Homo sapiens: one gene and its partners. The protein of the gene in region 1 interacts with the protein of each later gene in a pairwise test. Each region holds a gene or a part of one and is shown in the gene's direction. Other genes may lie near its edges. The genes, in order: BCL2L2-PABPN1, RIMS3 and BMF.

Evidence for each region.
Region 2: the proteins of BCL2L2-PABPN1 (region 1) and RIMS3 interact in a two-hybrid assay, tested with the Homo sapiens proteins (one large-scale study listed by BioGRID).
Region 3: the proteins of BCL2L2-PABPN1 (region 1) and BMF interact in a two-hybrid assay, tested with the Homo sapiens proteins (one large-scale study listed by BioGRID).

Annotation. Positions count from the first base shown.
Region 1 is NC_000014.9:23,313,224-23,316,876, forward strand, and holds part of BCL2L2-PABPN1 (BCL2L2-PABPN1 protein), read left to right. Parts: intron 1-3,653.
Region 2 is NC_000001.11:40,631,094-40,634,746, reverse strand, and holds part of RIMS3 (regulating synaptic membrane exocytosis protein 3), read left to right. Parts: intron 1-1,565; coding exon 1,566-1,678; intron 1,679-3,653. UniProt on the Homo sapiens protein: Regulates synaptic membrane exocytosis.
Region 3 is NC_000015.10:40,091,880-40,095,532, reverse strand, and holds part of BMF (bcl-2-modifying factor), read left to right. Parts: intron 1-1,657; exon of another isoform or gene 1,658-1,930; intron 1,931-3,644; coding exon 3,645-3,653. UniProt on the Homo sapiens protein: May play a role in apoptosis. Isoform 1 seems to be the main initiator.

The DNA of each region.
Region 1 (3,653 bases):
AAATACAGAATGAAATTCACATTCCTCTTAGGATTTATAAAAGCCTATCAGTTACTCAAGAGGGGCAAAAAAAATTTTGTGGCTTTTCTAAGAAGACAATGATATAGTGGACACCACCTTCTGTGACATCTAAAAGCAAATATGATGTTGAGTTTTGACCACTGTTTCTTCTAAAAACACCAAATGGAGATTCAGAAGGTCCTAAGCGAGAAATAACACTGGTGGAGAACTGTATGAAGGAAATATAATCCATCTATCGCTTTAGATAGCCCAAAATTTAATCCTGTATTAAACCAAATCATCATAGAGCAGCATATTTGGGCTAAATTGTGATGAACCTAGTAGAACACACTTAGGACCTTCTGAATCTATTAGAAGGTCCTAAGTGTGTTAGGACAAATGACACCTTCAATAAAGTTGGGCAACACTTAGTTACAATTATTAGTAAATGGATAGATTGTAGATATTCTGTGTTGTTACTTTTTTAAATTTTTATTTATTTATTTATTTTGAGATGGAATCTCGCTGTGTTGCCCAGGCTGGAGTGCAGTGGCGCGATCTCGGTTCACTGCAACCTCCACCTCCCGGGTTCACTCCATTCTCTTGCCTCAGCCTCCCGAGTAGCTGGGACTACAGGCGCCCGCCACCACGCCCGGCTAATTTTTTGTATTTTTAGTAGAGACGGGGTTTCACCGTGTTAGCCAGGATGGTTACCATCTCCTGACCTCGTGATCCGCCCGCCTCGGCCTCCCAATGTGCTGGGATTACAGGCGTAAGCCACCGCGCCCGGCCCTCTGTGTTGTAACTTAATAGCAAATCCTTTGAAGACTTTAAAAGCTGCTTTAAGGCTGGGCGCGGTGGCTCACGCCTGTAATCCCAGCACTTTGTGAGGCCGAGGCGGGCGGATCACGAGGTCAGGATCACAAGGTCAGGAGATCGTGACGGTCCTGGCTAACACAGTGAAACCCCGTCTCTACTAAAAATACAAAAATTAGTTGGGTGTGGTGGCGCAGTCCCTGTAGTCCCAGCTACTTGGGAGGCTGAGGCAGGAGAATCGATTGAACCCGGGAGACGGAGGTTGCAGGGAGCCGAGATGGCGCCACTGCACTCCAGACTGGCGACAGAGTGAGACTCCGTCTCAAAAAAAATAAAAATAAAAAATAAAATAAAATAAAATAAAATTTGCCTTAAATGTAGATACAGGAGAAATACAGAAATAAATCGACTATTTTGAAACTCAGCAGAAAATACACCATAATGAAATGCTGTGTAGTTTATTCAGTCAGTCATTTATGCAGCAAATATTCAAGCATCATCTGTGTGCTAAGCACAGTTACAGGCTCTGAGGTAGAGTGAACAGACAGATGCAAATCTCTGTTCTCATGTTGCTTATATTATAGTAAAAGAAACAGAAAACTTAACAATTATGTAATATGTGAGAAGGCGATGAATACCATAAAGAAAAATAATTCATTGAGGGGAATGTGTGTGTATATATACACACGTAAGAGTTCAATTTTAAATTGAGTGGTCAGAGAAGGCCTCATTTCTAGGGTGACTTTTGGGTAAAACTATGACAAACAAAATTGGAAAAATATATTTATTGACATGGGAAGATGTTTGTCTTTTTTTTTTAATTGGGTAAAAAAAGAAAATAGATTAGAAAATAATATATACAGTATGATCCCATTTTGCTAAAATATTTATATCTGTGTGCCTTGATATATATTTGCATATTGAAACTTTCAGGAAGTATATATGCCAAAATATCATTAGTGATTGTCTCTGGATAGTGGGCTTTATGAGTGCTTTTATTTTGTTCTTTTTGCTGTCAGTATTTTCTGATTCTTTGACAATGAACATATATTTCCAGATATTTCCAGTACAGTATATGAAAACAAGTTCTTTAGGTACAAAATTTTTAAAAAGTTAACGAAGCAGGATGGAAATTAAGCAGCCCAACAGAGGGTCCTTCACATTTAAATGGCTACCCCACTTCCATGCAAAGGCAAACTTAGGGAGCCAAGGTAAGCAGGACCAGACCACATTAGAAGATTATTGAGGTCTGCTCCAAGACAGAGGTCAGTAAAGGAGAAAGACTCCATGGTTCTACATCAGCACTGTCCAATAGAAATATAATGCAAGCCACATGTAGTTTTACATTTTCTAGTAACCTCATTTAAAATGCAAAAAGAAATTATTAAACCAATTTTAATATTTTATTTAGCCCAGTATATAAAAATATTATCATTTCAACATGGAATTAATATTAAACAGTTATTAATGAATTATGTCACATTCTGTTTTTCATACTAAGTCTTCAAAATTCAGTGTGTATTCAACACTTAGCACATCTCAAGTTGGACTACTCATGTTTCAAGTGGTCAGTAGCCATGTGTGACTAGTGGCTATCATATTAAAGTGTAGCTCTAGATCATAGGTCATTATTATAGTCTGTAAAAATTTCAAAGTAGTTCCAGATCATAGAGCATTATTGTAGTCTGTAAAAATTTCAAGAAAGGAGATAAAAATAGGGATGAAACTACCAAGACGTCAAATATTTATGTCGTTTGGGGAGAAAACTTTTCTGGGAAGAACTATGAATGCCCTCACCCATTTTTACTACTTAATTCTCCTTTTCTTAACTCCACTGAGCCATTCCCTTCTTCTTCTTCTTTTTTTTTTTTTTTTTTGAGATCGCCCAGGCTGGAGTGCAGTGGCGCGATCTCGGCTCACTGCAACCTCTGCATCCCGGGTTCAATTGATTCTCCTGCCTCAGCCTCCCGAGTAGCTGGGACTACAGGCGCAGGTCACCACGCCCAGCTAATTTTTGTATTTTTAGTTGAGACGGGGTTTCACCATGTTGGCCAGGATGGTCTTGATCTCCTGACCTCGTGATCCACCCACCTCGGTCTCCCAAAGTGCTGGAATTACAGGCGTGAGCCACTGCGCCCGGCCGATTCCCTTTTATTAATACATTTTCCCGTCTTCTGGGGCACAGTATCATTGGAGTTTCACTTTTTCCAAAACTCCATGGTCCTTTGTTTATAGGTTATTACTTAGAGAGAATTATAATGGGTGAATCTCACACCATTACATACCAAATTTCAAAAAATTCATTCTCAGAGGAAAACTTATCTCTTTGATATTCTCTATGCATCAACAACAGGCAGGATAATAAATACGAGTATTCATTCATTTATTTTTTTACTTTTTTAAAAAAATAAGATTATTCATTACTGAAGATGACTCATTCAGTTATCATTTACTGAGCACAGAGTGATAGGCAAAGGGAACACAAATATAAGATGGTTCCCTGTCTTTTACAGTTTATAGACTAATAGGGAAGGATCTTACAAGTCACCATTCAAAAAGCTTTTTTTTTTTTTTGAGACAGTCTCACTCTGCTGCCCAGACTGGAGTGCAGTGGCACGATCTCGGCTCACTGCAACCTCCGCCTCACGGGTTCAAGTCATTCTCGTGCCTCAGCCTGCTGAGTAGCTGGGATTACAGGCGCACGCCACCATGCCCAGCTAATTTTTGTATTTTTAGTAGAGACGGGGTTTCGCCATGTTGGCCAGGCTGGTCTCGAACTCCTGACCTCAGGTGATTTACCCTCCTCGGCCTCCCAAAGTGCTGGGATTACAGGCATG
Region 2 (3,653 bases), on another chromosome or scaffold:
TGGTCTCGAACTCCCAACCTCAGGTGATTCGCCCACCTCAGCTTCCCAAAGTGCTGGGATTACAGCCACTGCACCCGGCCTAACAGGGATCATTTAACACTTACAGCAACCCTGAGGGTTGTGGGTATTACCATTATCTCCATTTTACAAGTGGAGAAACAGGGAGAGGAAGAGGGTGGGCCACCTTACCCAAGGTCACAGCTATTAAGTGGTGATGGAGTCAGAATTGGAATTAAGGCCATTTGATTCCATGACCTTTGTTCACAATCTCCACACTATATCCAGCTCCTAAAATTCTGTGACCTTGAGAGTCTAAGTTTCTTTATTTAACCTTCTCAGATATCATTGTCCTAAGAATGTGATATTAGGCTGTTGTTGACCATGGCCAATAAAAGTGGGGCCTTGAAGCCCCTCCCTGTGGGGTGGAGGCTGGGCCTAGTCAGGGAGAGACACAGGCTCTCTCTGACAAGCATACACAGCCTACTTTTTCCTCCCTGCTGGCCGCTAGCCAAGGGGGACTCAAGGCCAAACTATCTAGTAGGAGATTCTTCCTTGGACAGCCTTTTATCTCTGCAGCCAGGAGCCTGGGCCTTTCTAGGAGATCTTAGAACTTTATTCTATCATAGCCCCTGAGGGTTGGCAGGGCCAACCCTCCCTCATCTGTCCTTTCTCAGCTGGCCACACCCAGAATATCTAGACTGGAGCACAAAAGAGAAGTAGCACTTTTCCCTTGATGATAACAACAGCAGCAACCGGAACTATCATTTAGTGCTTTCTGTTTGTCTGGAACTTTTCATTTGCCCTAATCCTCAACATATAAAACCCTATGAATTTTGTTTTGCAGGCAAGGCAATTTTACCTTTTGGAGCCTCTGTTTTCTCATCTGTAAGACTGGATAATAGCTCCTACCACACAGAGTGGTTGTAAGGATTAAAAGATATAACCCATGTGGAATTTTTAATGTACCATTGGCACCTGGCCAGTTGTCAATCACTGTCAGCTTTTCTTGTTACTGTTTCTAGACCCCCACACAGTCATGGAACAACCACCAACCACCATCACTTGCCATTCACCTCAACCCTGTAATTGTGTTATTTTGGTCTTAGCTGCTGTTCTGGGCACCACCTCATGTTTGACTTGGATTTCAAACTTGCAGTCAACTCAAACCTCAGTTCTTGTAACTTGTTCCAGGCATTGAAATTTCTGACCTATGTCTCTGGTTCTTAGCACTGATATGCCCTGGTGAGGACACAGGTGTCCAGCAAGCCCTGCCTTGTAAGGGTCACTTCAGAAGTCCCTGGACATTAAGGATTAAATAGCATCATTATGTATTGTTATTAGTTTATTTTCTCAAGTGACATCAAAGTATTTTTCTTCAGTATGCAGAAATAAACAGTTCTGTTTGTCCTTTCCCAGAGTAGTGCAATCATACTGTTTAGAGGAGAAACTGAGGCACAGAGGGACGTGCCCAGGGCCCCAGGGCCAGAGCATGGCAGCCTGCCAGCTATACTTTCATCCTCAGGTTGCCCTGACCCCCTCACGCGTCCCTCTGCCTCCTCCTGCAGGTTCATCTTCCCCACTACCCGGCTAGGGGCTGAAAGCCAGTTCAGCGATTTCCTGGATGGGCTGGGACCAGCTCAGATTGTGGGGCGACAGACACTGGCAACACCACCCATGGGTGAGTCTTATTAAGGGCAGGTTGAGTGGGGTAATGGTGACCATGCGACAGGAAGGGTGAGCTCAGTGGGGGCCCTGCATTGGCCATCGTAGAGTTTATTCTATCACCAATTCTGTGATCTTAAGCAAGTCACTTCCCTTCTTTGAACCTCAGTCTCCTCATATTTAAAATGGGAATAATAATACCCACTTGAGTTCTATGCTCTAACAATACTTTACTGAGCTCCTATTAGATGCTTTGCATGAGGTATTTCAATTTAATGTGTAGGAACTGTGGCTTATTTGACTTGTTACACCCAACAGCGCCTGGCACCTAGAGGCCCTTTAGTAATTTTCTTATCGCTTTTCCTTGCAGCTAGGAAGTATAGTTGGCCCTCTGTATCCATGGGTTCTGTGTTTGTGGATTCAACCAACCTTGGATAGAAAATATTCAGGGAAAAAAAATTCCACAGAGTTGCAAAAAGCAAAATTTGATTTGCTGTGTGCCGAGTACTACCCTGAATCCATGCAAAGGAAGTGATATGTAGGCATTGTGTTAGGTATTATAAGTACAGTCATTTTCAGTGTGTGAACATCATAGAGTGTACTTACACAAACCTAGATGGCATATATATATATATATATATATATATATATATATATATATATATAAATTTATATGTATTTTTTCATATGGAAAACCGTATATCCTAGCACCATTACTGAATATCAATCATGTCCCCTATTTGATCTGCAATGCCAATATCAAGTACCATATATCAGGTTTCTATATATTCTCCATTATAATCTTACGGGCCCACTGTCATGTATATGATGCATTGTTGACTGAAATGTCATTATGCGGCACACCAGTATAATCTAGAGATGATTGAAAGTATATGGAAGAAGCTGGTTGCAGTGGCCTGTGCCTGTAGTCCCAGCTGCTCAGGAGGCTGAGGCTGGAGGATTGCTTGAGCCCAGGAGTTTGAGGCCAGCCTAGGCAATATAGTGAGACCCTGTCTCAAAAACTGAATAAAATAAAGCATATGGGAGGATGTGCATAGATTATATGCAAACACTATGCTATTTTTATTATTTTATTTTATTTTATCTTCGAGATGGAGTCTCACTCTGTTGCCCAGGCTGGAGTGCACTGGCGCAATCTTGGCTCACCATAACCTACCTTTACCTCCCAGGTTCAAGTGATTCTCCTGCCTCAGCCTCCTGAGTAGCTGAGATTACAGGCATGTGCCACCATGTCTGGCTAATTTTTTGTATTTGTAGTAGAGACGGGGTTTCACTGTATTGGCCAGGCTAGTCTGGAACTCCTGACCTCATCCACCTCAGCCTCCCAAAGTACCGGGATTACAGGCATAAGCCACTGTACCTGGCTGCCATTTATTTATTTATTTAGAGACAGAGCCTCGCTCTGTCACCAGGCTGGAGTGCAATGGCACAATCTCAGCTCACTGCAACCTCCACCTCCCAGGTCCAAGCAATTCTCATGCCTCAGCCTCCCGAGTAGCTGGGACTACAGGCGCACACCGCCACACATGGCTAATTTTTTTTCTTTGTATTTTAGTAGAGACGGGGTTTCACCATGTTGCCCAGGCTGGTCTTGAACTCCTGAACTCAGGCAATCCGCCTGCCTTGGCCTCCTGGCTGCCATTTTATATTAGAGACTGGAGCATCCAAGGATTTTGGTATCCCTGGGTGGGGGCGAGGTAGGGTTCTGGAACCAATCCCCCATGGATACTGAGGGATGACGGTACTACCTGAAGCCTACGCTTGGTCCTGTTAGCTTCAGTCTGGCCCATTTCATGAGCTCTCAGACAGAACCTCCCTGCCCCCTCCCTCTCTTAGGTGTTGGCTGTGTTGGCTTCCAGCAGCTCCTCCCCAGGATAGCTCCTCCAGAGGTGCCTCCTCGCCTCCACTCCTTTCCCATCAGTCTGACCTGAGCAGCACCTGACCCACACGTCCCCACTCAGCCCCCATCA
Region 3 (3,653 bases), on another chromosome or scaffold:
TGTGCGCTGGGTGCTGTGCCGGGTGCCTGAGGGTCAGAGGCCAAGTACACTCATTCCTGGTTCCCCTCTCTTCCCCTTCTCCTCCACACCCTCTTGTGGAAGATCCCACGTTCTCTGGTGTTTTGGTATCTTTGTGTTCTTCATCCTGTTCAGTGAAGGCCAACTTCCTTCCTCCTCACTGTTTCTCCCACTGGCCTCCCTTCAAGTCTTTTTTCTTTCCTTTCTAGTCAGGCCCTTTTGTTAAACTTTTAGGAAAAATTTTATTTATTGTTGTATTTTGTAATCAGGGCATTCTTTGATTATCTTGGTTTCCTCATGGAAAAGGGTCTTGTGAGGGCTGCCCTGAGGCGGGAGAAGGCCAAAGGGAGCCTGTGTGGTATCTGCTTGTAGCCAGAGAGGGCTCATGGGCCCATGGGTGGTTCCCAGGCCCTACACTCAGCTGACAGAATTCAGTTGTTGGAGCTCTGAGTTGTAATCCTGAAGGTAGTCGTGGATGACAAACTCCTTAGGGTTGGAGAGCACCTTTGTGGTTTCCAAAAGGCTGTGGCCTGGCTGCCACAGAACCACCTGGGCAGGATTGACCTCTGGCTTGGCCAGTGGGGTAAGACATTACTTTGGTGGAAAGAGATCGAAAGGGACTGAAGAAAACACCAACACGTGAAGTGTTTTCTAGCCTGGAGGATCATGAGTGACTTTATTTCCTCCTCTGTAATGTCTTGTATTTTCCAATATTTCTACAATTAACATGTATTGCTTTTATGATTAAAATATACAATAAATGATTTCTGATCTCTAAAATGTCACCAAGGGAGCTTGTTCAGTATACAGATTCCTGGGACCCTTCCTTGAAATTCTGACCCAGTGGGTCTGGGAGAGGCCTGGAGACTCTATACTTACAAGAGCACCTCAGCTGGCTTAGTGACACAGTTGGGTTTAGAAACCATTGATCTAGTACAATACCTGCATTTTCCTTATAAGCCAAGAGAGAACTCATGAGCAGGTTGATGGGAGATCCAACCCGAAAGCCAGGTCCTCTGATTCCTGGTCCCTGGGGATCCATGCACCATAGAGCCTTCCTTACCAATTCATGAGCCTTAAGGACTGTCACACGCAGAGGCATGGAAACTAGTTCCTTCCCAAGGGCCGGCCCATGTATCCTGCCTCCTGCACCTAGGCCTGCCTGGGTCCCCTGCAAGACCTCAGCCTTCCTGTCTGAAAGCACTCTCTGGCCCACAGCTGCTTCTGAGTCCCCCAACGCTCCCAGATGATGGGAGTCTGTGCCTCATCTTCAGAGATCTCAAGTTGCCCAGGGAGTAGGTGGCCTCCATTAGTGGAATTTGGGAGAAAACTGAGGCATACAGAGATGAGAATTGCCTCAGCCCCAAATCATAGAATTCTCATCTGCTTTCCTTGGCCATTGAGCTGTTTTGAGATGATTTAGTAAAGGGGAGGCTAGAGGGTCTGCTTTGGTATAAAGAAAGGTAGTGGCACTCTGAGCACAGAGATAATGGGAAGGGACATAGCTCTAGGGCCAGATGGTCTAGGTTCAGTCCAGTCCCTGCCACTTAAACTAGCTATGTGGTCGCTAAGTAATGGGCATGATAATGTGCCTCAAAATCACCTGGGGAATCTTCTGATGCTGGGTCTGCATTTCCAGGCAGCTCTCTGATGATGCTGAGGCTGCTAGTCCATGGACCACCCTTTGAGAAGCAAGGATGCAGAACACACAGAACAGAGCCTGGCACCTCCCCACCCCCGACTGCCACCCTAACCCCACGTTACTATTATGAGGTGATGATTGTTCTTGCCACCGGTCTTCTCAGACAAGCACCTCAGGAGAACTGGAATTCCAGCAGACTGGCCTCTCCAGGGATGAGTCTGCTCCTGGATTCTCCTCTTGTTCGGCCACATGACCTCTGCACCTGTCTCGGTCAGCAGCTGGGGAGGGGAGGAGAGGGGGTCTTTGGCCCAGCTGCTGCAGGCCGGAGGCTTCGGGTTTGCAGCTGAGTCCATTTTCACGCTGTTTTACTCTAACCAGATTTTGTTAAGCCGGGTGTGTTTCCTCTTTTTACTCATCTTTGTTTACAAAACACGAGGAAGCCATCCATCTCCCCACCCTCTGTCTGCCAGGCCTCTTCTGTGGCACGCCCGATTTCCCTTCCCCTCCGGGCAGGAGCTGCGCCTCCAGCTTGCCGGGTTGTTTTCCAGGCTCTTCCACGGGGGAAGGAGGAATGCTGTTGCCATGATGGACGGGGGCATTCCGTGTTCACCTGGGTTGTCAGGCCCTGAGGCCAGCTGCCTGGATGCCTCTCTTTTTGTGGCCTAGGGCAGCGTGAAGGGGAAGCCAGCAACCTGCATGGTGGCCCTGGGAAAGGTCAGGGAGGCCAGGGCTGGACAGAACCTGGAAGCTCTGGGAGTCCAGGCAACCTGGGCCCCCTTTCCAGCTGTGCCGCTGGCTTCCTCTCTCCTCTTCCCATCTGACCAGGAGTAGTTGCCTGGTGGGGGCTGGTGCTGTGGTTAAAGACAGTTTAAGAGAAGGCTTGGACACCTCATGTAAACTTGCTTGCTGACGGGGCCACTGAAGTAATCCAAGTCCAGCCCGTGCTGGCTCCTTTCTGCACACTAGGTTTTTATTCCCCTGTCCAGTGAGAACCCTGTGGAGAGGCCCCCGCCCAGTCCTCCTGCCCTGGCAGACAAAGAGAGAACAAAGACCGCCTCTTCCAGCACCCCCCAGTTTCCACCCCCCCAGGCCTCTCCTGGGAAATGGTACCTGTGTGGGCAGGGCACCAGCCCCAATCTGGTGAGCCACTGACCCCTGAACTTTGCCCCTAGCTTCCCAGCCTGACAGTAGGACCTGGGATAACCTCCAGAGCATAGTATATATTCTTTGTTTTTGTTTTGTTTTCAAGTATGTTCTTGCTTAATGTTTAATTGGCTCCAGTCAGTAGGAGAGCGCTCCAAGAGGGATTATTTATGGCTTACTGTCAAGAGCATCTATAAAAAGGGCAGCACCGAGCTGGAGATGCTGGGGAGGGAGAGCGGGCGGGCGCACAAGGGTGTGTGTGTGTGTGTGTGTGTGAGTCTGTGTGTGTGCGTGTTTGCACTGGATGAAATCAGATTTTTGCTGCCTCAGCAGTGTGGTTTAAATTGAAGATTAACCCTTTGACCTTCACAGTGTCAAATCACTTGCAGATGGAGGCCCCCCCTTTCCCCTTGTTCTCTGTGTTACTTTGGAGTCGGGGGAGAGAGGGGGGCACTTCTTCTCTTTCTGAAGCCAGTTTGTTGTTCATGCAGCTGAGGTTTGAGGGGCTCGGGAGCCAATCTGATTAAAAGCAGCACTTGGCTAAACTCTGGAAAATCCTGCAAGCAGGGGAAAAAGCTTAATCCTCTTGTGCATAGTGCATATAGAGCCTAGTCTTTTCTTTTTAATGTTAAAACTGCAATTGTTTTTGGAGAACTCAACTCTCTCCTCCACATGGCAGTGTCTCTTTCACCTCCCCCTCCTCCCCGCTGTGAGCTGTACTGATAGGATTAAAGTGCCAGCCGTGAGACTTGGAGATCTGAACTTTTACTGGAAATGAGAGGGAGTCGTCTAAGATTGCGTTTGGGAGTTATGTTGGTCTTTTTTTTTTTTCTCCCTTCAGCACCAGCAG